Homo sapiens: one gene and its partners. The protein of the gene in region 1 interacts with the protein of each later gene in a biochemical or structural test. Each region holds a gene or a part of one and is shown in the gene's direction. Other genes may lie near its edges.

Region 1 (3,500 bases):
GCACTGACAAGGCTGGAGTCGTGGCCGAGTACCCGGCCGAGAAGCTGGCCTTCAGCGCCGTGTGCCCGGACGACCGGCGATTTTTCGGGTTGGTTACCATGCAGACGAATGACGACGGGAGCCTGGCCCAGGAGGAGGAGGGCGCCCTGCGGACTTCCTGCCACGTGTTCATGGTGGACCCAGACTTGTTTAATCACAAGATCCACCAAGGCATTGCTCGGCGGTTTGGGTTTGAGTGCACGGCCGACCCAGACACCAATGGCTGTCTGGAATTCCCGGCGTCCTCCCTCCCCGTCCTGCAGTTCATCTCTGTCCTGTACCGAGACATGGGTGAGCTGATTGAGGGCATGCGGGCCCGCGCCTTTCTGGACGGGGACGCCGATGCCCACCAGAACAACAGCACCAGCAGCAACAGTGACAGCGGCATTGGGAACTTCCACCAGGAGGAGAAGAGCAACCGGGTCCTTGTGGTGGACCTGGGTGGGAGCTCGAGCAGACACGGCCCCGGAGGCAGCGCGTGGGACGGTGTGGGTGGGAGGGGTGCCCAGCCCTGGGGTGCTCCCTGGACTGGGCCCTTCTGTCCGGACCCCGAAGGGAGCCCCCCATTTGAGGCCGCTCATCAGACTGACAGGTTCTGGGACCTAAACAAGCACCTAGGGCCAGCCTCTCCTGTGGAGGTGCCCCCAGCTTCCTTGAGGAGCTCAGTCCCCCCTTCCAAGAGGGGCACCGTGGGTGCTGGCTGTGGTTTCAACCAGCGCTGGCTCCCGGTCCACGTGCTCCGGGAGTGGCAGTGCGGACACACCAGCGACCAGGACTCTTACACAGATTCCACCGATGGCTGGTCCAGCATCAACTGCGGCACACTGCCCCCTCCTATGAGCAAGATCCCCGCAGACCGCTACAGGGTGGAGGGCAGCTTCGCGCAGCCCCCGCTGAATGCCCCGAAGAGGGAGTGGTCCAGGAAGGCCTTTGGAATGCAAAGCATTTTTGGTCCCCATCGAAATGTTCGAAAGACTAAGGAAGATAAAAAGGTAAGCCTGCCAGGAGCCACTCAGCGCGGAGGCCCGGCCTCCTCACTTAGCAGTCACGGGGAGGTGACTCCCAGTCACCAGCTTGCACAGTCCTGGCTTCCTCCTGCTGGCCCTGTGGCCTCTGTGGCCATCACAGGGTGTCTGCGTTGCCTGTGGGCTGCGGACTGTGTCTTGCTGGGACCTCTTGCCCCCTGCCCTGTTCGAGTCCTTGGTTCTGGTTCTGGCTCTGATGGCTGGTCCTGGGCAGGACATCTGGGCAGGACTGGTGGTGGCGAGAGGGAAGTTGTTGTCTTGGAGCTCAGGATAAGGCCCTTCCTCCCCTTCCTGCTCCTCCCTAGCTCTGTCCCTGTGGCTCCTTGAAGCCCATTTTAGGTCTGACCCCAGAATCTTCATCCCAGTGTCCCACACCCCTCTTGAGGCGAGAATATTCTTGAAGCACTGAAAGCTGGTTCCTCGTGCTGTTTCCTCCATGGGGAATATCCTGTTGTGTAAAACACCAGCTGGACTCCGCAGTGGGCCTGGGGAGCCCCACGCCGCCTGCTCACTGAGGGGTACCTCAAGGTGTGTAGTGCTGCCTTGAAGACCTGGACCCATCAGCATCCCTTTGGGGGCCCTGCCTTTAGGAGCTAAGTTTGGAGCAGGAAAGAGTAAATGAGCAAAGCTGGGAACCCTCTGGAAGGGACTTTGTCCAGCAGGAGGCGGTGCTGCCAGTGTGGGAGTGTGCGGGGCTGTGCCTGTGCGGTTGGGTGCAGGGAACCCTCTGGAAGGACTTCCTCCAGCCAGAGGCGGCGCTGCCGTGTGGGGCTGTGCTGTGTTTGGAGCCAGGGCCCTTGTGACAGGTGATGGGGGTGGGCACTTAGCTCCCTTTGTTTCAGAGAAACTACTCCGGCTGTTTACGATGTAAAGACACCTTTTTAGTGTTTGTTCACATCCTGAGACCATCCTAAGAAGACCCTCTAAGGCTGCTGGCTGGGTAGGCAGGGCCGGGGAGTAGGAAAGGCCGTGTTTGATGAATATTTCTACTTGATTCCCCCTCCCCTAGTGTTTTCCATGATGAAATGTAGCACCTGAGAGCATTTAAAGGCAAGGAAGGAGCCGGCTGCCGTGGCACACGCCTGTAACTGAGTGCTTTGGAGGCTGAGGCAGGAAGCTCGCTTGAGCCCAGGAGTTCAAGACTGCCGTGAGCTGTGTTGCAGCCACTGCACTCTAGCCTGGGTGACAGAGCGAGACTCTGGCTCTAAAATAAAATAAAATTTAAAAAATGGAGGAAGAACAGATTTCTCGTTTTATCTCCTCAAAATGATCACTGATAACATTTTGATGTATGTAAGCATAGAATTTTTTTTTTTAAAACACTTGTAATCATATGGATTTTCAACATCCTCTTTATTTTTGGGGACAGGGTCTGGCTCTGTTGTCCAGGCTCAAGTGCAGTGGCTCTATCATAGCTCACTGCAGCCCCTGCTCCTGGGCTCAAGTGATCCTCCCACCTCAGCCTCCTGAGTAGCTGGGACTACTGAGTAGCTGGGACTACAGGCACTTGCTACCATGCCTGGCTAATTTTTATATTTTTTGTAAAGATGGGATTTTGCCATCTTGCCCAGGCTGGTCTTGAATTCCTGAGCTCAAGCGATCCTTCTGCCTCAGCCTCCCAGAGTGCTGGGATTACAGGCATGAGCCACACGCGCCTGGCCTCAGCCTCCTTAGAGGAGTCGTTCTGCAGCTGCACGTGCTGCTGCTGTCTTTCCTTGTCTCTTGATCTGAGCCCTGGTCTGGATTCTCAGGGAGGTGCCCTCCTGCCCGCCCTGGGCCTCACCTCACTTCTCCGTGGAGCCTGTAGGTGGTGGGGCAGGGCCACTCCCAGGGAGCTGGCCTCAGTGTGGGCTGCCTGTATTGGGCAGGGATGGGAGGTGAAGGGCCCTGGAAAGTGGTGAAAATGTTCTTTGGAATCAGGAGATTCCTCATCTCTTTGAGTACATATTTAAAACTGTGTTTTCTCCACTGCTGTGGTGTAGTGAAGGTTGACACTGGTGTTTATGTGGTTCTTTGTGGATTACAGGGCACCTTCACCTGCTTTCTCCTTGAAATTCAAAGTGACCTGGACAGTGGGGAGTATGATGCCATTTTAGATAATTGGCAGTGGTGCTTATGGTCCTCAGCGGACCTGAGAGACAGATAATGCTGTCGTCCCCATCCCACCAGTGAATGGACTCCTCCTTGGGGCGGGTGACATGGGGGAATAGGTGGGGTTGTGATGCCAGCCTTGGGCTTCTTTGCAGTGAAGATGAGGGTCCTGGCTGTTCCCACCCACACTGGAGCAGAGCAGAAGGGGAGCTAGCATGTCCTCAGGGTTGGAAATAACGGTGTGGCGGTCACTGCTTTGCAGAGTGCATCCTTACCTTGATAGGAATCCTGAGGCCATCAGGCCAGGCGATTGAGGTTTGGCTGTCAGGTGACTTGCTCACAGTC
Region 2 (3,500 bases), on another chromosome or scaffold:
ACTCCGTCTCAAAAAGAAAAGAAAAAAAAAAAGAAATCTCTTTTTTATCCTTTCCCATTACCTAAAAGGCTAAAGGAAGATGAGGTACATAAAGAGGAAAATATTTTCTACCTCATACCTTTAGCTTAGCAGAGCTTTGTTCCCTAAGGTCAATTTTGCTAATTCTCAGTGCAGTGTTACTGACAATCCCACAGCTTTTTACCTTTTCCATGTTTATTTTTACTTTTAAATAATAAAAAGGCAAATGCTCCTTGTCCTTCTACCTTTGTCAAAATACAAACTGTGGCTCACTTTTAAAGTCAATGTAACTTACTAAAGGAAAAAAATGAGCTTAAGTTTTTTTTTTTTTTTTTTTTTTTTTTTTTTTTTTGAGACGGAGTCTCGCTAGGTCGCCCAGGCCGGAGTGCAGTGGCGCGATCTCGGCTCACTGCAAGCTCCGCCTCCCGGGTTCACGCCATTCTCCTGCCTCAGCCTCCCGAGTAGCTGGGACTACAGGCACCCGCCACCAGGCCCGGCTAATTTTTTATATTTTTAGTAGAGATGGGGTTTCACCATGTTAGCCAGGATGGTCTCGATCTCCTGACCTCGTGATCCGCCCGCCTCGGCCTCCCAAAGTGCTGGGATTACAGGCGTGAGCCACTCTGCCCAGCCATGAGCTCAAGATTTTAAAAAGTCCTCAGCATCCTTGATCCTTTGGCCATGAAAAGAAGGTAACTTCTGCGCATGTGCAGTTACCCTTTGCTGTCCCATCACACTATTTGCCCTATAAAGGAACATCCGTTGCTCTCTTTTGAAGTACAAAGTTCCTCTCGGCCCTGTTTTCTGACCCTAAGTAACTAGCTTCACTCCTTCTTCTGCTTGTTCTGGTCTTGCACTCATCAGTTTGCAAAACTTCATGACTGAATGATGTCCCCTCCCTTGCCAGGATGGTGATGTGATTGGCGTCAATTCATTGAGGGTGACTGATGGAATCTCCTTTGCAATTCCTTCAGATCGAGTTAGGCAGTTCTTGGCAGAATACCATGAGCACCAGATGAAAGGTAAAGCAAGTTGGGATTTTTTTTTTTTTGGTTTCGTCTTGTGCTTTTCAGGAACACTCAATCTTTTGTGGTGACAGCAATTTTTTTGTTTTTGTTTTTGAGACAGAATTTTGCTCGTCATCCAGGTTGGAGTGCAGTGGCGTGATCTTGGTTTACTGCAACCTCTGCCTCCTGGGTTCAAGCGATTCTCCTGCCTCAGCCTTCCGAGTAGCTGGGACTACAGGCACCCACTGCCACGCCCAGCTCATTTTCGTATTTTCAGTAGAGACGGGGTTTCACTATGTTGGCCAGGCTGGTCTTGAACTCCTGACCTCCAGTGATCCGCTTGCCTCGGCCTCCCAAAGTGCTGGGATTACAGGCATGAACCACCATGCCTGGCCCGGAGACAGCCATTTGAATCCTGTAGACTACTGGGTCACTCATTTGTACTCAGCTCCTATAATGGTGATTTGAGCAGCAATATTGGGGGACTAGGCACAAACCAAGCATGAGTTGTACCCAGAAGTATTTGGATTGAGCTAATGTGGAAATGAAACCCAGGGGCTGGAGGTGGGAGGTGGGTGGGAGGAGTGTAAGTGCTAATGACAAAGGTTCTCTGAAGCCTGTGTTTCATCCAGGTAACCTGAAAGGACAGCTGTGATGGCAAAGAGATCCTGGGACATGGGTGTCTTTTAAGCTGCGCTAACAGGAAAGAGGTTTTGTTGTAACACATCATAACTTTCCTTTCCAGGAAAGGCGTTTTCAAATAAGAAATATCTGGGTCTGCAAATGCTGTCCCTCACTGTGCCGTAAGCATGTGTTTGAATATGTCTGGGTTGTTTTTCAGAGGCAAAAACCATAGCTGCACAGTCTTAACAGAAAAGCTGAGCCACTTGGACCACAGCCAGGTACTCTTGTGACCATAGGCCCTATCTGTCTCAGGGTATGTATCTGCCTCTGCCTGCATCAGCACTAACTATACATAGTTTATTTCATTGTGGCTGTATTTTATAATGTCCAGTGGTTCTAGGCTTTGGGATAGAGGCTCAGCCCGAACTGAGAGGAGAATGACTGTGATTAGCTTGATGGAATCTTCCTCGGCCCTTGTGAACCTTGAGCAGAACAGAGTACCTACTAAGAATTTCAGGCTTTTACCAGGGCTCAGGAGACTAATTCATTGTTTCCTAATCTTCTCACTTCTCTTAGCCTTAGTGAAGAATTGAAAATGCATTATCCAGATTTCCCTGATGTGAGTTCTGGGGTTTATGTATGTAAAGTGGTTGAAGGAACAGCTGCTCAAAGGTAAGAGAAGTGAAGGCCTTTGTCATCTACCTTTGCTTTTTCTAAATGTGTGCCATGGTAAAATGCATGGGGGATCCAGACTTGATCTGTCCAATACAGTGGCCACTACTTACATGTAGTATGTACTGAGCACATGAAATGTGGCCAGTGTGACTGAGGAACTGAATTTTGAATTAAAGTAAGTTTAATTTAAATTAAAAAACCCAGGCCAGGTGCAGTGGCTCATGCCTGTAATCCCAGCACTTTGGAAGGCCAGGGTGGGTGGATCACCTGAGGTCAGGAGTTTGAGACCAGCATGGCCAACATACTGAAACCCCGTCTCTACTAAAAATACAAAAATTAGTGGGTGCGCCTGTAATTGCAGTTACTTGGGAGGCTGAGGCAGGAGAATCGCTTGAACATGGGAGGCAGAGGTTGCAGTGAGCTGAGATCACGCCACTGTACTCCAGTCTGGGCGACAGAGCAAGACTCCACCTCAAAAAAAAAAATATTATCATTATATAGTAGTATATTGGGGGGGTGTGTTATTTCAAGTGGATTTCAAAGACATAGGAAACAGAGTGTAAAATAACTATTTTAAAAATATCACGTTAAATGATAATATTTGGATATATTGTATTAAATAAGATATATTATTAAATTAAATTCATCTATTTAAAAATTTTTAAAAATGTGGCTACAAGAAAATTTAAAATTATGTATGTGGCTTGCATTATTGTCTACAGGACAGTGCTGATTCAGACTTGGGTACTTATAAAGGCTTTTTTTGTATTTTGGGAGGGAGGTGGTTCTCTATAGTCTAAGAAGAGCTCATGTTATGAGTTAATAGCATAAGTTTAAATTAATTTGGCTAGGAATTCCCAAATCTACCCTTTCAACATTAATAGTTATTACTTAATAACTATTAAGTGATTAACACCTATTAGGTATTAGTAACTATTAATTATTCATTAATAGTTTTTTTTTCTTTTGAGATGGAGTCTCACTCGTTGCCCAGGCTGCAGTGCAGTGGTGCAATCTTGGCTCACTGCAACCTCCACCTCTCAGGTTCAAGCAATTCTCCTGCCTCAGCCTCCCGAGTAGCTGGGATTACAGGCACCCGCCACCACGCTTGGTTAATTGTTGTATTTTTAGTAGAGACAGGGTTTCACCATGTTGGCCAGGCTGGTCTCGAACTCC
Region 3 (3,500 bases), on another chromosome or scaffold:
ATTTATTGATTTGCAAATGTTGAACAGACCTTGCATTCTGGGGATGAAGCCTACTTGATCATGGTGGATTAGCTTTTTGATGTGCCGATTGATTTGGTTTGCAAGTATTTTGTTGAGGATTTTGACATTAATGTTTGTCAAGGATATTGGCCTAAAGTTTTCTTTTTCTGTTGTGTTTCTGCCAGGTTTTGATATAAAGATGAGGCTGCCCTCATAGAATTAGTTGGGGAGGAGTTCCTCCTCAGTTTTTTGGAATAGCTTTTCTGTAGGAATGGTACCATCTCTTATTTGTACATCTGATAGCATTCAGCTGTGAATCCATCAGGTCCCAGGCTTTTTTTGGTTGATAAACTATTTATTACTGATTCAATTTCGGAGGTTGTTATTGGTCTATGCAGGGAATCAATTTATTCCTGGCTCAGTCTTCGGAGGTTGTATATGTCTAGGAATTTATCTCTCTTCTAGGTTTTCTGGTTTGTGTGCATGGAAGTGTTCATAGTAGTTTCTCATGGTTGTTTTTATTTCTGTGGGTTCAGTAGTAACATTCCCTTCATCATTTCTAATTGTGTTTATTTGGCTCTCCTCTCTTTTCTTCTTTATTAGTCTAGCTAGTGGCTTGTCTATTAATTTTTTCAAAAACCCAACTCCTGGATTCTGATTTTTTGTTGTTGTTGTTGTTGTTTTAATTTAATTTAATTAATTTTTTTTTTTTTTTGAGATGGAGTCACTGTGTTGTCCAGGCTGGAGTGCAGTGGCACGATCTCGGTTCTCTGCAGCCTCCACCTCCCAGGTTCAAGCAATTCTCCTGCCTCAGCCTCCCAAGTAGCTGGGACTAGGCAGTCACGTGCCGTGACACCCAGCTAATTTTTGTATTTTTAGTAGAGACAGTGTTTCACTATGTTGGCCAGGCTGGTCTTGAACTCCTGACCTCAGGTGATCTGCCCACCTCGGCCTCCCAAAGTGCTGGGATTACAGGCGTGAGCCATCATATCATGCCCAGCCTCATTGATCTTTTGGAAGGTTTTTTGTGTCTCAGTTTTCTTCAGCTCAGCTCTAATTTTTGTTATTTCTCATCTTATTCTAGCTTTTGGGTTGTAAATCAGAATTTTCATTAGAGGTTGCAAAATGACGTTTTTCTGTTCTACATTATTAGCTAGTATTCTTCCATAATGTAGAGCTTCTCATCAACTGGGCTGCTTAGTGCATTTCTACTGAAGAGGCAGGAATGTACTTGATCCTTCCTTTTACTAAGTTTCAAAGTGAAGAGCTGTTTAAAATTGCAGTTTCAAGTGGTAACAAATGAGTTTTTTCAGTCTTTTTTTAAATAGCATTGTGGATCTATGGATTTTTTATTCAGTGTTTTAATCTTTTACAATCCCTACTTTTGATTTTCAAATTGCCGTGACTTTGACGAGTTGTGGGCAAATTTTTACTATAAAAATCTGAAGCACATGAGATTTCTGAACTAGAGATAGAAATTTAAGAGTTGTCAATGCATAAGTAGTGGCTCAAGTCACAGGAGTAAATGAAACTGCCAAAGGAGGATATAGGGTGGAAAACTAAGCAGCGCAGGTTAGCAACTTCCAGCATTTATAGGAAGAATCCTTACATATGGATTTATGAGTTGTTTTATTGAATTTTTTTCTCCAGTGTTTCACAAATTGTTTTATGAAATGACCAGAAATTACCAATTATCCTGATTGCTTTTTTCCCGAACCTGTTAATATTTGCTTCTTTCTATTTTGATTTATTGTTTTTGAACTTGAATTCTATCCAGCCCCTCAAGAATGTTAACTTATCTTTATGTTGAATATGCACAGTTGCAGTAAAAATTATTCTTTTTTTTTTTTTTTTTTTTGAGACAGAGTTTCACTCTTGTTGCCCAGGCTGGAGTACAATGGTGCAATCTCGGCTCACTGCAACCTCTGCCTCCCGGGTTCAAGCAGTTCTCCTGCCTCAGCCTCCCGAGTAGCTGGGATTACAGGCACACACCACCACGCCCAGCTAATTTTTTGTGTTTTTAGTAGAGACAGAGTGTTGCCATGTTGGCCAGGCTAGTCTTGAACTCCTGACCTCACATGATCCACCTGCCTCGGCCTCCCAAACTGCTGGTATTACAGGCATGAGCCACCGCGCCTGCCCTAAAAATTATTCTTTTAGGATAAGAAATGAAAAAAAATTTAACATTTTAGTATTAATTAAGAAATTCCTTGGGAGGCCGAGGTGGGCGGATCATGAGGTCAGGAGATCGAGACCATCCTAGCTAACACGGTGAAACCCCGTCTCTACTAAAAATACAAAAAATTAGCTGGGCATGGTGGCATGCGCCTGTAGTCCCAGCTACTTGGGAGGCTGAGGCAGGAGAATCACTTGAACCCAGGAAGTGGGGGTTGCAGTGAGCCGAGATCACACCACTGCACTCCAGCCTAGGTGACAGAGTGAGACTCTGTCTCAAAAAAGAAAAAAAAAAAGCAATTCCTAGAAAGCTAGATCAAAACCACCCATGCTGGTAGCACATACATAGTAAGTATAGGAGGTAAAAAAAATACGTTATATTCGGGACTATTACTGACTTGTTTTTTTGCTCAAAAAATGTTCCTTTTATAAACTAAAACCTTTATTGGTAATATAAAATTTTTTGTCACTGATATAAGATGCTAATATTTATCCATTTTCTGTTGGACATCTTTTAACAGACGTTTTCTACATATAAAAAGTATATCATATTACTAACATAGCAATGTTAGGTAAAAATGTCATTTGAATTTGAATTTTTATGGTATTTTAGTAAATAGGATTGATGGTAAATATTGAATGATATGATGACAGTGGTGGCAATAAAACCCAGTACCTTCATTGCACCAGACTGGAAACCTAGGTTCAGTTTCCAGTGAACTTGCCAGTTTTTAAAAAGCATCACTAATATCTCTTCATATCTCAAAGAAGGAATATAATATTGTTTGATGATAATAAAACTATATATTTTTATATCTCTTAAAAATTATATATTTATTTGATCAACCTGATATTTGGGAATTTAATACCATGTGCCTTGGAAATTTTTAGTACTCCATTGGAATAATGAAATAACAAAGTACTTTTAGTAACAAATTTCATCCACATATCATAAATAACCACAGGCTATTTTGACTCCTTATAGTCACTGTTGGAGGCCCATGATATTGTGGCATCAAAGTGTTATGATTCACCTCCATCAAGCCCAGAAATGAATAATTCTTCTATCAATAATCAGTTATTACCAGTAGATGCCATTCGTATTCTTGGTATTCACAAAAGAGCTGGGGAACCACTGGTGAGTACAGATAAATCAGTACCCTATTAAATCTGAAATATGACATAATTTGTGGTTCAGTCACTACTCTGTTTCATTTTTTTTCCTTTTCATAATGTTATGAAAACTGTATTCTTGTTTGGCCTGTGTATAAAGACACAGCTGATGCTTTCTCAACTTGGTTTAGCCTGCAAAATTTAACTAAAAT
Region 4 (3,500 bases), on another chromosome or scaffold:
AAATGTAGAGCTGGGATTTGAACCCAGTGTGGCCCATCTCCGAGCTCACACTGTTACCAAAATAAGAAAAGAATTTTTTCCTGGGGCGGTGCCCTTCTCTGAAGTCTCACACAGGCTTTCAAAGCACCATTATTATGTATGCCAAGTACTGTTTGGATTGGAGGTGTACATGCATTATTTTATTTCATCCTCAGAAAGACCCTGCAAGGTCGGTGCTCTTACCCATGACTCTTTCCTTCCATTTTACAGATGAAAAAACAGAAGCTCAGAAAGTTAAATAACTTGCCAAGTGTCCTCCACTGGCTCATGTTAGTTTGCCTGTTGGCTTCTGGTCCATGAAATGTTTTCATCCCATACCATGTTCCCATTTACATAGGTCCAGTGTAGAGCACATGGAGTACAAAACAAAACAGATCCTGGCTGTGAAAGAGATTTAGGCTGGGCATGGTGGCTCACGCCTGTAATCTCAGCAGTTTGGGAGGCCTAGCCGGAAAGATCACTTGAGGTCAGGAGTTTGAGATCAGTCTGGCCAACATGGTGAAACCCAGTCTCTGCTAAAAATACAAAAATTAGCCAGGTGTGCTGGTGCACACCTGTAGTCCCAGCTACTGGGGAGGCTGAGGCAGGAGAATTGCTTGAACTCTGGAGGCAGAGGTTGCTGCGAGCCAAGACCAGATCGTGCCAGTGCACTCCAGCCTGGGCAACAGAGTGAGACCCTGTTAAAAAAAAAAATAGATTTAGACAAAAAAGAGATGATGTCCTGGATGGAATATGAGAACAGCTCTTTAATTTTTATCCTGGTAATTTTAAGAGTGGTTAACAGTAGGAATGAAGTGAAGTTCTTCCAAATGTATTCTGCAGTTTAGCTCCTCACATTCTCATACCCCTAGTGCCAGGCCCTGTGGTAGGCACCATTGGATAGAAAGGTAAAACTGAGCAGCTTTAACCCAGGGGATCAATCAGACACCCACATATGCCTTTGAAAGCACAAGTCTTACTATTCTTTGCTCACCCAAGCTTTTATGCCATGGGTTAGCCTCTGTCTCCCCTTGACTAATAGTGTCCTAATAAGCCTGTTACAATAAGAAAGGGAAGTGGTATAACATAATGATTACTCTTGTAAAGAAAATAACTACCAGATGGACCTGAGCAGCCATCTTTCTCACTCATTCCATCCATATATTTACAGGGAATTTAAAGAGCAGAGGCACCGCGTAATCTTTGTATGTTGCAGGCCTTGCAGCCACCCCATCCCCAGGAAGGGCAGTGATGAGCTTTTCCCCTGGCATCAGCAGTGTGTGTGCAGAGAAGAGTCCTGGGCAGGAGATCACCCCTAGTATTTTGCTAAAAGCTGTTTTTAGGTGCCCCGTGTCTTTGCTGTGTTTGGATAGGTGAGGGATGAAGTCCCATCAGATCGTGGGTGAAGGTTAGATGCAGGCGTTGGGTCCACAGGCTGACTCCAAGGTGCCCTGAATAGAGCTAGTGTATTGCGTGTGGTTAGTATCCATATCCTGGGATCAGCAATATTCGGGTTCATGTGTTCTCTTTGCCCTGTTGTTGAGGGCCCCTGGGAGGCTCTTCTAACCTTCAAGCCTTAATTGCCTCACCTCTAAAATGGGATCATAATATGCCTGTTGTTAGGGTTGTTATTAAGATGAAATGAGATGATGTACATAAGGGCACAGTAAGTCTTATCAAGCATTTCTTGACTGTCTATTAAGTGCTGGACACCTGTAGGATTTTAACATTTTTTCAAATAAATCACTGAAGAAAGTTTAGGAATTTAAAGCAGTTGTTATCTAGAAGAAAAGAGATTGTTACTCAATAATTTGGTTTCATTGTAAGCCTCCTGCTGCCCCTGAGTAACCCATTCTCTGGATTTCTATCCTCTGTCTGTTTTGCAGTGGTGGAAATGTGTGAAAGAGGGATATTCAAGTTCATTTGGGCTAAGATGTAAAGGTGGAGGGCTAAAGCTTATGAATAACATATGGGTTACAGAGTTGTTTATGTTTTTCCCACCCAAATTAACAAAGCTATGGAGAGACTGGCCAGAAAAACCTCCTACCTTCATGTAAGCAAGTGCACTTATGGTTTTTTAGATGAGTAGCCTTGCTTTCTATCTTAGTCTATTTGTGTTGACATGAAGAAATACCTGAGGCTGGGTGATTTGTAAAGAAAGAGGTTTGTTTGGCTCATGGTCCTGCAGGTTGCACAAGAAACATGGCACCGGCGTCTGCTCAGTTTCTGATGAGGGCCTCAGGCTGCTTCCGATCATGGCAGAAGGCAAAGACTAGCCTGCATGTGCAGAGATTACATGGAGAGAAAGGAGGCAATGGAGAGAGAGAGGAGAGAAGTTCCAGGCTCTTTTAACAACCAGCTCTTGCAAGAACTAATAGAGCAGAGCTCACTCTCTGCCCACCACCACCCTGGGACAGCATTAATCTCTTCATGAGGTGTCCACCCCCATAACCCAAACACCTCCCATTAGACCCCACCTCCAATGTTGGAATTAGATATCAACAGAGATTTGGGGGGACAGTCATCCAAACTATAGCACTTTTTTCTTTATTTAGGGAAGAAAATGCTTCTGGTTGGTAATTGGATGTATACATTTGAAAACCACTCTGTCTTAGGCCATTTAGGCTGCTGTAACAGAAATACCAGAAACCACTCTGTCTTAGTGCATTTAGGCTGCTGTAACAAAAATACCAGAAATTGGATAGCTTATAAACAACAGAAATTTATTTCTCGTAATTTTGGAGGCTAGGAACCCCTAGATCAAGGTGCTAGCAGATTCAGGGTCTGGTGAGGACCCACTTACTGGTTCACAGATGGCTGTCTTTCTGTTGTTGTGCTCACATAGTAGAAAGGGTGAGGGTTTCTCTCTTGGGCCCCTTTATAAGGGCACTAATCCCTAATCACGTCCCAAAGGCCCCACCTGCTAATACCATCACTTTGGGGATTAGGATTTCAACATATGAATTTTGAGGGCACATAAACATTTAGATCGTAGCACACCCCATAAGTAAGTGGAAGTGTTAAGATGCTGTAACACCTTAAAGGTTTGTTGGTGTCATTTTTGGTGAAGCATTGCTTGTGGTTGTTCACCAGAAAAGCAGATGAGTCAGTGACAAAAATGAGAGAGAAAATTTGAAATCAAGCTCGTGGAAATAAGAAATTAGACATTTATGGATTTTTTCAGGTTGTGTAAATATAGTAGCAGACTTTTTTAAACGAGGAAAGTACTGAAACGTCTTCTCATATTAGTTTTCAAAAATATCTCGTTTGGCTTAGGACCATGTGAACTATTGTGCAGATATTATGACTCTGGAAAAGCTCTTGTTTTTTTTTCTACCTGTTCCCCCATGCCCTTTGTCTCCCTTCATTCTCTCTACACCTTTTTCTGATGACAGAAACATCCTATTAATACTTTTGTTGAGTGTCTCATCCAATTTCAACTTAATTTCAAGCACCGTCCTTATGACTACCTTCAGTCTTAG
Region 5 (3,500 bases), on another chromosome or scaffold:
TCAGAGCATTTATTTAACACCTACTGTGTGCTCAGAAGTGTATCAGGTATGGGGACTCAGAGGTAAGGGCTGGTGGCCCCTGATCTCAAGGTACTCGTGGTAGATAGTATGATGCTCAGCTTAAGGGCTGGGCTTCTGAAGTCGGATTGCCATTTTCTGGATGTGTGGTGTTTCTTGGGTGACTTCATCTCTAAGTCTCAGTTTCCCCATCAGTAAGATAAGAGAAGTAATAGCAGATACATACGTAGCTCTTAGGGCATTGCAGAATGGAAGGACCTCCTTATATGAAACGCAAAGCACTGTGCCTGATGCATTGCTAGAACTCAGGCAATATTAGCGTGTTGTCATTGTCATCATCATCATCATCATCATCATCATCATCATCATCATCTTCAAGGCACTGACAAAGGAGTCAGCTGTGTGGGAGGAGTGCTGGGACACTCTTGTCTCCCTGGGGATGAGGTGGGTGGGTGGGTTAGGAAATCTTCACAGAGAAGGAGGGTGATGTGAGACTTCTGTCCGGGAGCTGACTCGGAATTTGCCATCTAATATGTTGGAAAAGGTTCTCTGGGCAGAGGTATCCAAAGTCACTTTGCCTGTCACCCTTTGAGGTCCCAGTTGTTGCCTATATCATGTGACCAGTGTGTGGCTTCTCTTGAATTAAGAGCTGCATGTCTGGACTGCCTGGGATTTTACAGATGTCATCTCGTTAACTCTCCCTGGAGCTTGTGACACCCAGGAGATGGCAGTTTATAGAAGCCCTGGCACCTTCTTGAATGATGCTTGGTTTGGTTTCTATGCACTGGGAATTCCTCACAAGGAAAGATTTGTCACATCTTAAGGAAGGAAAAAAAGGCAAATTTGGGAGTCCATGGATACCCTATTATTTTAGATTCCAGGACAAATTGTCGAATAAGCACGTTTCATAAAAACAATCCTCCGCAGCATCCCGTGACAGCAGCTGGTCCCTCGCCACAGGATAATTATGTCTCCTTGTGCACACAAAAGTCTCCGAGGGCATATTGTTGTGGCTGGAGTTTCTGATAATTTCCAAATTGAACAACCTCAGTCCTAATGAGTCAGAGGCTTGTGCAATATTTTCAAACCTCAGGAACATCTTTTTCATTAGTTGTGCAATAAAGATGGTAGGCCTATCTCTGTGATGAGCTGTTTTTTTTTCTCAAAGTTTGATGAGATTCGCCGTAGAATTCCTTCTCACATAGTCTTGGGCAAGATTTTACCCGATCTTCCAACACATGAGTCATCTCATATCCTGTGACTAAGAAGAGCTGTCTCTTTGGTGCCAGTTTTCTAAGTGCAGTCACCACTTGATGGAGACGGATGGACACAGTTGGGATTGCCCAGGCAGATGGGCAATCTTGCCAGCTAGACATAGGGGAGGGAAGCCTCAATGTTCAGCGGTCACATCTGCTTTTCTGTGGCACAGAGTGAGCTATACAGGAATATTGTATTCTCCAGGACAGTTAGGGCAGTGGGAAATGTCATCAAACAGAACAGTGACCCAAAGAGCCACTGCCACTGGGTGCTCTGTGGGAGCTGGGCACTGTGCTCATTGTGTTATGGGCCTTGCTTTGTTCTTACCTTGTAGCCACCCAGAGAGGCAGGGCATTATCCTTGCTTCCTAGCTGAGGCCACAGAAGAGGCTCCTAGAGGTTAGCTGTAACTTGTCCAAGGCCAGCCAGTGCAAGGAGGCAGAGCCAGGATTTGAGCCCATGTCTGTTTCACTCCCAAACTATTCTTCAGATTTCTTTAAGTCAAGTGTTATTTAGAAATGTTTTGTTTATTCATCAAATATTTGGTGGGTGTTTCCAGCTATCTTTCTGTTATTAATTTCTAGTTTAATTCTATTGTGGGCTGAGAATATATTTTGTATGATTTCTATTCTATTACGTTTGTTAGGGTGTATTTTCTGGTCTAGAATGTGGTCTGTCTTGGTGAGTGTTCCCTGTGTGCTTGAGAGGAATGTGTGTTCTGTCATTGTTGAATGGAGTGTTCTATAAATGTCACTTAGGTCTAGTGGATTGATAGTGCGGTTCAGGTCAACTGTATCCTTCCTGATTTTCTGCCTACTGATCTATCAATTCCTGAAAGAGAAGTGTTGACGTCTCCTGAGTCTATTCTGAAACACTGAATTGCGGTCTCCATGATGAACCACTAGAGTTAGAAAACCTGGGTCCTAGCCCCATTTGGGCCTTTGGGATGACTCCCTTCTGCCTCAGTTTCCTCATCTACAACAGGGGGACAATGATGCTGCCTAGGAGACATCAGCAGGATACTGTGAAAGTCCAGTGGCATAAGGGGTATGGAGGAGCTTCGTCAACTCCTAAAGCTTCAGTGCTAGGAATCCTAAAGCATTGAAATCCAAAGATATAAGGAATATGAAGGAGTTTTGTCAATTCCTAATGCTTCAGTGCTAGGAATCCTAAAGCATTAAAGTCCAATGATATAAGGAATATGAAGGAGCTTTGTCAACTCCTAAAGCTTCAATGCTAGGAATCCTAAAGCATTGAAGTCCAGTGATATAAGGAATATGAAGGAGTTTTATCAACTCCCAATGCTTCAGTGCTAGGAATCCTAAAGCACTGAAGTCCAATGATACAAGGAATATGAAGGAGCTTTGTCAACTCCTAAAGCTTCAGTGCTTTAGGAGTCCTAAAGCATTGAAGCTGTAAGAGATTAGGACCTCTAGTTGGCAATTCCAGACTCTTCCAGGACTCCTGATAGAGCCAACACCAAGAATAGTGAAGCCAGAAGGATGGAAATAGTAAAATGCCTCCTGGGTGTCAAAGCATGGGTCTCCTCTGGGCATGTTCTCTTGTCCTACTGAGACATGATAGCTCTTGGCCAAAGTGACTGAACTTGACCCTCTGTTTCAGGAAGGCCAAATGCAGGGTTCACTACCATCATGTCCAAGGGCAGATGCGTTGGTCCAGAACATCAGCATCCCAATCATTATACCAAGCAAACAGCCGTCTCTGCCTGCACCGTGGAGAGCACACGCTCCTCCTGGGGTGGCCTGCATCCTGTGTTCTTCTCAGGCCGACTTTCTGTTTAATGTTTGCTGGTCAGGAAATGGCCTGAGCTGAGGTTCTTCAGATCCCAGTCTGACCTTTCTCCACCAGCATTTGTGGCTCTGAAAAATATAGCCCAGTGTGGTTTAGCCCCACTGGATGAAACCCAGTAGGAAAAGTCTGATAATAGCAGAAGACGCACAGGAGGAAGAGTGAGGATTTGAGAGCATCTGGGAAGGACCATGTGCCTGGATATCGTTCTGTCTGTGGGATTCTGTGACACTTGTCATTTACAGTCTGTTCCCATGGAATTCTCATCATTGGCCAAACATATAGTCCTTCTGTCCTCTGAAAAATATCATTCTGCTCCGACCTTTCACACCCATCTCTGACCACATCAACTCCCTGTTTGCATGCATCTTGTGGATGAAGGACACCACTTTACCTGTAAAGACACTGGTGGCTTCC
Region 6 (4,272 bases), on another chromosome or scaffold:
CACTCAAGATTAAAATTCCACAGGAGAAAAGTAAAAGGACTATCTTAGACCGGGTGTTGACCCACTTGGTTAGAAGAAAAGGCATATGCTGATCAACAGCCCCACCATGATCTCAGGTAATAGATAGGAGTCATTCTCCAAAGGTAGGGTGAACACATGTTAGAGTGTTGCCCTGGACAGTCCCAGTTTATAACTGTTTTTTTTTTTTGGGGAGTAACCATAAATAGCATCACTTTTCACCTGCACAAAACTGTCCAAGTTTGGATCATAAATTGCATGATCAATTTACACAAAGGAAATTTAGGGCATCGTTACCAAAGTAGCAATGCTGAGCAGAGACAAATAGCTACCATTACAATGAGGCTATTAGAAGGGGTCAAAACAGAGTATTTTGCCCCCAGTCTCTCACAACCAAAAGATGATAACCAGAGTCAAAAGTCCCTATTGGTCTTTAGGTTTTGACTACAGCATGAAAATAACATTCCTATACTCAAGTGTTGAATTATTATGACTTTGACCCAATAGTTCCGGTCCCTTTTCTTCCTATGTCCTTGCAGCTAAGCCACTAAATGTTAAGGTGTTCTCTTTCACTGCTGCTTTTTTAGCTTAATTGGCCCTCCTGCTTTCCAAAATAGAATGCTAACACCCATTCACCCAGCTGAAGGGTCAGGGTGATACCAGATCCAATATTCCCCAAAGCCTGTGTAGGCTGGTTGCTGTATCCCTGACTACTGATTAATAATAAAGGAGTTAAATAGCACCTTTTGATTCTGATTTCCTCTGAGAGGCTGTTCTACAAGCATGGGGTCAACTAAAAGGAAGCAGGGTTTCGTTTAATATTTTCTCCTTTCATTAGTGCACTTAAATTACTTTCTTGTAAACTCTGCTTGTTACCTAAATGTACTAGCACTTTTGTTACCTAATTAAGTTTCTTATCAGAATTCCAACCAAAAATAACAAGAAATGTAATAATGATAAGATATCGTGCCCTTCAAAACAGATTTCCTTTTGCGCTTTATCTCTTGGTACTGTTCTGGCTTGTTTAATTAAAGTATCAGAAATTATTAGACTCAAATTATTTCTTGATCTAGTGCTCAAATTCTCCCGAAAACCTGCTTCTTCTGCCTCAATATTTAAACCTTTATCAGTATGAGGCAGATGAGTTTCCACATGTTTGCAACTGGATTCATGTAATTCAATACAATTTTGGAGGACGATCCTAATTTAGCCGCTAAGTAATTAAGCAAACAAATCAGATTTGGGTACACTGAGCTACTGTGAACATTTAAATACTCATGCTCTTGGATCATCAAAAGGAACAACGTCCATGTGCAAAAAACAAACCTTATGAAATTCTAGCATGGAGATGTGAAATTCAAAGCAACGTTCTTATTTTTTTCATCAGAGGGATGGGGCTCAAAATATCACCAAGTTCAAACCACTAACATAAGTTTTGTTCAAGGAGGGTAGTCATGTCTGTTACAGGCTTTACCATAACTGATGAGAAAGTACACTTATATCACAGCATTGAGAAGGAGAAAACTGTAAGACATATTGGCGATTTGTGTTCCTCACACTCTGTGAAAAAAATTCAGGTTGGAATCTGCTTGCTTCTGGTGGAGCTGTGTGAGAGGTTCACGTTCTTTGAAGTCGTCTGCAACATGATCCCCTTTTGCACTATCAAGCTTGGCTATCACAATTGCCAAGCAGCCATCTTAAACTTGTGTTTTATTGGAACTTCAATACTTACCCCTGTGTTTGTCAGATGGCTCACTGATGTCTATTTAGGAAGAAACAAACTGGTGTACATTTGCTTGTTTCTACATTTTCTAGGTGAGTGTCCTCTGCTGACTGGATTGTTTTGTGACTTAATTAAGTAGATTTTTGTTAGAATTTTTAGTTTATATTATTTTCACTCTGCTCTTAGCATAAAATGTGATAAATGAAGTAAGAATGTGGGTTCAATGTATTTCATTCTTTGTACTATTTGAAGAATGCTAGTAAGTCTGTGTGTGTGTGTGTGTGTGTTAGAGAATGTTTTGTGCCTATATCATTGCATTTATATTTTATAATAATTACTCCTTTACATATCTATCTTACTCCTTAGAATGCCCTCCTTTCCCAAAACCTTTTTACCTCAAGCCTAAATTCATGACAAATTCCCTCAGAAATGTGAAATGTATTTGCTTCACAACTAAGATGAAATGTGCTAAAAAAGGTTTTTGAAGTTCATGTAAAATAATTGAGAAATGTTTTTATCCAAAGGTGGTCTTTTAATTAGTCATATAGTAATTAAGATTGCATATGATGGCATGATTTCTATATTTTTAACTATGATTATATGCTTTAGAAATGAGTAAATTAGACACTATAGTGTGCATCTTTACATATATACTAATATATATCTGCAAAAGTTTGGGACCGATTGTGAGAAATGCTGGGAAAATATCAAGATAGTTTAATAAGAAATAGAGAGCAACTTGAAGAACAGACTAGAATTTTAAACTGAAAAGTTCAAGTTATTCTTCTTAAGCAACAAGAAGTCTCTGAAAATATCATGAAAACAACATTTGAGAAATGCTATTCTGCAATACAGGATGGACAACCACAGTGAGGAATTAAATAGAGAGAGATCAGAAAATCTCAGGATGATGGTTTAAGCAATAAAGTGCCAATTCAGGAGAGAACAAGTGAAAAGCTGTAAGGCAACTAAATAAAGGTACAAATGTGATGGGGGTCAAAAATTAGCTCCAAGTTTCTGATCTGAGCAACTTGGGAATATAGCATGCTGTTCACCAATAATGAGAAGTGCAGCTGAAATGAGTATTGGTAGGGGGACAGATGAGAAAGAGATGGATAGATATCAGGTACTCAACATATCACACAATCTCAGGCAGGTGGTAAATTACCATTCAGAGAATCCATTGGAGTTTAAGTCAAACCTGGAAACTTCACAGCTTTAGTTCTGTGGAATAAAAACTAGGTCACTGCATGGCAAATAATCACTCAACATTCAACAAATATTTCTTATTGACTACTCTGTACCAGACATTATTCTGGGTCTGGAAATGCAATAGAGAAGAAAGTCGTCTGTTCCTGCTAAAGTTGACTTTTTGGTGCAGGGAGAGAGAAAATAAAAGAGGAAATAGATATGATGTCATGTGGCAATGAGTTAGGATGGAAAAATAAAGCTGGGTAGGGGGACAGGATGGAATGGATGGTGATGAGGCTGCTACTTGGTACCGAGAAAAAGTTTTCTGATAAGAAGACATTTAAGCAAATCCCAGACTAACTTACTCTGCTTACCTTGGTAACAGGCCACACCAGTAGCATTTGTTGACTTCTTGTTTAACATGGTAATTTCTATCAGTCTAAATTCTGAGGTCAGTCATCAGACAGGATGGAAATCCCAACTTTGGAATCTGGCAAACAAAAGACTTAAGTCAACTCTACATCCATTCATTTTTTTACTAAAAGTTATTTCTTTGTTGCCCTCCACTTACAGCTGCCATCAAATTCCAACTGTCACTAAATTTCAGAGGTTATATATAAGAAAGGTCTTCTGTCTGAATTGCTACTACCCTAGCTGAAAAAATGCAGCTTTCTTCTTTTTAACCATTCCAATGGCCTACTTACTCGGCTGCCAGTTCTCAGTCAGTCTCCAGCTTGTACTCCATTCTACCAACAACACTGACTTCCTGAACAAATAAATCTCTATATTGCTTCTATTATCTAAAAAATGAAATCCAAACTTATTAATTTAGCATACAACAACCTTACCAACCTATTCTAAGTTCACCTCTCTAGACTTGTTGTTCAACACGCAACCCCAACCTTGCTAACTTCTCCTGGCCTCCTTCCCTAGTTTTCTAATCTTGTACATGCTCTTCTCTCTTTCTGAAATTGTCACCTTCCCTTATCTTTCCATCCCTTATCCATGATTGGAAAACTCCTGCTATTCTTTCAAGAACCAAATAGTGTTTGTTGCTAGCTTCTCTGTGTTCAACCACACCCATATAATACTTATACGATTGCATCCATCACTTTATAATATAATTGTCCACCTGCATGGCTGACTTCTCTGATGGACTCAACATTTCCTTCAGCGGACCCCCATCACCTGGCAGGGGGTATGACACATCATGGTGCTTCTACAGAGCTACTAAATGCAGGCATACTGATGATGAGATACACAATTGCACACATCACAGAGGAGACTTTTCTTCATATATGTCATTGTTTTGTCTCTTTACTGCATCATTTTACAACAGA
Region 7 (3,500 bases), on another chromosome or scaffold:
GCTGAGATTGATATTTTTGAATACTTAAGAGCCAGGGTTTATTGAACTCATACTCTGTTCTAGAACTTTACTAGGCATGGGAGACATGGAGATGAATGGGTACCACCCTTGTCTTCTAGGAACTCATGGTCCAGGATAAATAATATGATATTTTTTCCTTTGTGGTCATCAGTTCAAGGAATACCGGTCAAAATGGTAACAGAAGATCAAATTTAAAATTTAAATTCATGGTACAGGTTCACCAATGATTTCCTAGAGAGATTGAATTGCCAGTTTGTATTGTCATTCTTTAATCTCAGGACTAGTACCTGTTGGGCCTTATTATTTTTATTCATATTTGGTATGACACATAATAGTACTCCATAGCCCTTTCAGTTGTGCTTCTTTGATAAGGTTGTACATTTTCTGTGTTAATTTCCAGCTTGCTTTCTTCATGTGAGAGTTGTCAATTCACTTGCTTTGAGCATGTGAAATGTGGGTATCTACTATGTGTATTTATGCCCATTCTTCATATATTTGTATTATAAGCTTTCCCCACTTCAGGATTTTTTTAAATTTACTTATTTTCAGCTGCTTTATTGATAGATAATTTACATACCATACAATTCCCCCATTTGAAGTGTACAATTCAATGGTTCTTAGTGTATTCACAGATCTGCAACTGTCACAAGTCCATTTTGGAAGGTTTTCATCCCCCACAAAGGAAACCTATACCTATTAGCAGTGACTCCCAAACCTCCCAAACCTCCCTCCCTGAAGCCTTGGACAACCCCTAATCTACTTTCTGTCTCTATAGATTAGTCTGTTCTAGATATTTCATGTTAATGGAATCATACAATATGTGGTCATTTGTGACTGGCTTTCACTTAGCCAGATTCATCCATGTTTCATTCCTTTTTATTGCCAAATATTCTGTTCTGGAATACGGTATTTTATTTATCCATGTCATTAGTTGATGGACATTCGAGTTGTTTCCACTTTTGGACATTTACAGAAAATGCTGCTATAAATATTCATGTGCAAGTTTTTGTGTAGACATTTATTTTCATTTCTCTCCGGTACATACCCAGGAGTGCAATTGCTGGATCATGTTGTACACCATGTTTAGTCTTTTAAGAAACTTCCAGACACTTAAAGGACTTTCTAGAATTTCTATTCAGTTTCATTGGTGAAAGCCACACTATGCAGTTTTGATTATTGCCTTTGTCTGAAAGGAGTGCTTACTTTTCAACTGTAACTTTTCTGAAATCTAAGTATTTCTGATAGAAATTTAGAGTTCAAATTGATACGCGCTGTAAGTGTAAAATAGACCCTGGATTTTGAAGACTTAATATGAAAGAATGCAAAATCTCTCATCAATAATTTTTTGTATTAACTACGAGTTGAAATGATACTATTTTGGATATATTGAGTTAAATAAAATATATGTTATTAAAATTTATTTCACTTATTTTTTTCCTGTTTTTATGTAGCTATTAGAAAACTTAAATTTACGTATGCGGTGTGTATATTTCATTTGGACCGCACTGCTCTAGAAGCAGTGCTAGTGTGCCTATTGAAGAAAGTAGCCCCAATTTGAAACCTGCTTCCCAGCTGTATGACTTTAAGCAAGTTAAAATCTCTCAGAGCAAGATTTAGTCTTTTCACCTATAAAACAGGAATAATAATTGTACCCACCTCAAAAGTTTGAGGGTTGAGTGAGATATATATATATATATAATGTTAAATCACTCCCTAAAATATAGTTAGTATTCATAAATGTTATTAATTATTATTGTCGTTATTGCTGTGATTACCATCAATTTGTCAAGTTGTTTTTTAATCTGGAAGAATTTTTTATTTATATTACATTAAATCTCTATTTAATTTAGAACTTTTTTTTTTTTTGATACTTAGTGTTTCCATCCAGGAACCCAGCATAACTTTAACCCAATTATTGTGTTTTCCTTTATTGCTTTAAGGAAAGTTATATTATTTTCTTTAAATAAATCCTTCTTCCCCTGAATTACATTAGTACACATCACTAGTTTTGTTACTTGAATCCTTTCTTGGCATTTTCTAGATATTTAGCATTCACTCATTAAGAATGCCTAACACCGAATGTACATTCAGCTAATCTGCTTTTAATGAATTGTTTGATCCTTTTTGTGGCTGTGTTTTGTGTTTTTATCCTGCATCTCCACTAAACTTATCTTCTGGCACTAAAAATTTTCTTTGTTCATCATTTTCTGTGTGAATGTCATCTGCTAAAAAACAAAAAAAAAATAATAAGGTGGTACTTTTCCATTCCTGTGCTCATTATTCCTCTTGTCATTTTTCCTTCCCTGATAACTATTATTAGCATTTATCCTACTACATTAAATAAAACACCAAATTGTTTGTTTGTTTGTTTTTGAGATAGTCTCGCTCTGTCACCCAGGCTGGAGAGCAGTGGCATGATCTCAGCTCACTGCAACCTCAGCCTCTTGAGTAGCTGGTACCACAGGTGTACACCACCAAGTCCTGCTATTTTTTTGTATTTTTAATAGAGACAGGGTATTGCCATGTTGCCCAGGCTGGTCTTGAGCTCTGGGACTCAAGTGATTAGCTAGCCTCAGCTTCCCTAAGTGCTGGGATTACAGGCATGAGGCACTGCACCTGTAATGTCAAATGTTGATTTTTGACTTTTAGTATAGAGTGTTATTTATTGCATTTAGAAAAACCTTTTTATAGCTCTAAATGTTTTTTACAAAATCAGGAATAGGCTGGGTGCGGTGGCTCCTGCCTGTAATCCCAGCACTTTGGGTGGCTGAGAGGCAGATCACTTGAGCTCAGAAGATTGAGACCAGCCTGGACAACATGGAGAAACCCCATCCCTACTAAAAATACAAAAAATTAACCGGGTGTGGTAGCACGAGCCTGTAGTCCCAGCTACTCAAGAGGCTGAGGCATGAGAACCGCTTGAACCAGTGAGCTGAGATCATGCCACTGCACTCTAGCCTGAGTGACAGAGTAAAACCCTCCCTCAAAATAAATAAATAAATAAATAAATAAATAAATAAATAAATAAAAGATTGAAAAAAAATCAGGAAGAGCTATGGGCTTTATTTAGTGTGAATTTTCAGTTTTCTGTTTCTTCCCTCTCATTAGGTCTCTCTGCTGCTCCAGCTCAGTATTACCTGCATGCTGGCCTAGAAGAAAGACTCCCTCTGCTTCTAGGTTGTGTGGGCTGGGTCATCTATTCATACAGATCCTAAATTTGCTCTAAGTCAGGGCCTGGGGGGGATCCTTGGTGGATAGTGTACACGAGACTTTGGACTTGTGCTTGTCACTTACATTTTGGCTCTGTGAGACAGTTTTTCATATTTCCGGATCCTTGTTGAAACTGGAGATCATTATAAATGAGAGGGAGATGATTTTCAGATAAGTGAGGGCCTATTGCATTAGGCAGGGTTCCTGAAAGTGTTTGGTAAATGGATGAGAATAAATGATAGACCTTAACCGCAGAGTCCCAAGACAGC

The links.
Region 2: the proteins of RGS12 (region 1) and HTRA4 interact in a test that uses a peptide from one of them, tested with the Homo sapiens proteins (one large-scale study listed by IntAct).
Region 3: the proteins of RGS12 (region 1) and PALS2 interact in a test that uses a peptide from one of them, tested with the Homo sapiens proteins (one large-scale study listed by IntAct).
Region 4: the proteins of RGS12 (region 1) and PDZRN3 interact in a test that uses a peptide from one of them, tested with the Homo sapiens proteins (one large-scale study listed by IntAct).
Region 5: the proteins of RGS12 (region 1) and HTRA1 interact in a test that uses a peptide from one of them, tested with the Homo sapiens proteins (one large-scale study listed by IntAct).
Region 6: the proteins of RGS12 (region 1) and SLC15A5 interact in a test that uses a peptide from one of them, tested with the Homo sapiens proteins (one large-scale study listed by IntAct).
Region 7: the proteins of RGS12 (region 1) and FRMPD1 interact in a test that uses a peptide from one of them, tested with the Homo sapiens proteins (one large-scale study listed by IntAct).

Annotation. Positions count from the first base shown.
Region 1 is NC_000004.12:3,317,021-3,320,520, forward strand, and holds part of RGS12 (regulator of G-protein signaling 12), read left to right. Parts: coding exon 1-1,031; intron 1,032-3,500. UniProt on the Homo sapiens protein: Regulates G protein-coupled receptor signaling cascades. Inhibits signal transduction by increasing the GTPase activity of G protein alpha subunits, thereby driving them into their inactive GDP-bound form.
Region 2 is NC_000008.11:38,980,728-38,984,227, forward strand, and holds part of HTRA4 (serine protease HTRA4 precursor), read left to right. Parts: intron 1-925; coding exon 926-1,040; intron 1,041-1,770; coding exon 1,771-1,828; intron 1,829-1,866; coding exon of another isoform or gene 1,867-1,895; exon of another isoform or gene 1,896-2,218; intron 2,219-2,225; coding exon 2,226-2,321; intron 2,322-3,500. UniProt on the Homo sapiens protein: Serine protease.
Region 3 is NC_000007.14:24,646,452-24,649,951, forward strand, and holds part of PALS2 (protein PALS2), read left to right. Parts: intron 1-3,160; coding exon 3,161-3,313; intron 3,314-3,500.
Region 4 is NC_000003.12:73,614,942-73,618,441, reverse strand, and holds part of PDZRN3 (E3 ubiquitin-protein ligase PDZRN3), read left to right. Parts: intron 1-3,500. UniProt on the Homo sapiens protein: E3 ubiquitin-protein ligase. Plays an important role in regulating the surface level of MUSK on myotubes. Mediates the ubiquitination of MUSK, promoting its endocytosis and lysosomal degradation. Might contribute to terminal myogenic differentiation.
Region 5 is NC_000010.11:122,468,053-122,471,552, forward strand, and holds part of HTRA1 (serine protease HTRA1 precursor), read left to right. Parts: intron 1-3,500. UniProt on the Homo sapiens protein: Serine protease with a variety of targets, including extracellular matrix proteins such as fibronectin. HTRA1-generated fibronectin fragments further induce synovial cells to up-regulate MMP1 and MMP3 production.
Region 6 is NC_000012.12:16,274,886-16,279,157, reverse strand, and holds the start of SLC15A5 (solute carrier family 15 member 5), read left to right. Parts: upstream 1-1,472; coding exon 1,473-1,833; intron 1,834-2,632; exon of another isoform or gene 2,633-2,965; intron 2,966-3,306; exon of another isoform or gene 3,307-4,272. UniProt on the Homo sapiens protein: Proton oligopeptide cotransporter.
Region 7 is NC_000009.12:37,702,954-37,706,453, forward strand, and holds part of FRMPD1 (FERM and PDZ domain-containing protein 1), read left to right. Parts: intron 1-3,500. UniProt on the Homo sapiens protein: Stabilizes membrane-bound GPSM1, and thereby promotes its interaction with GNAI1.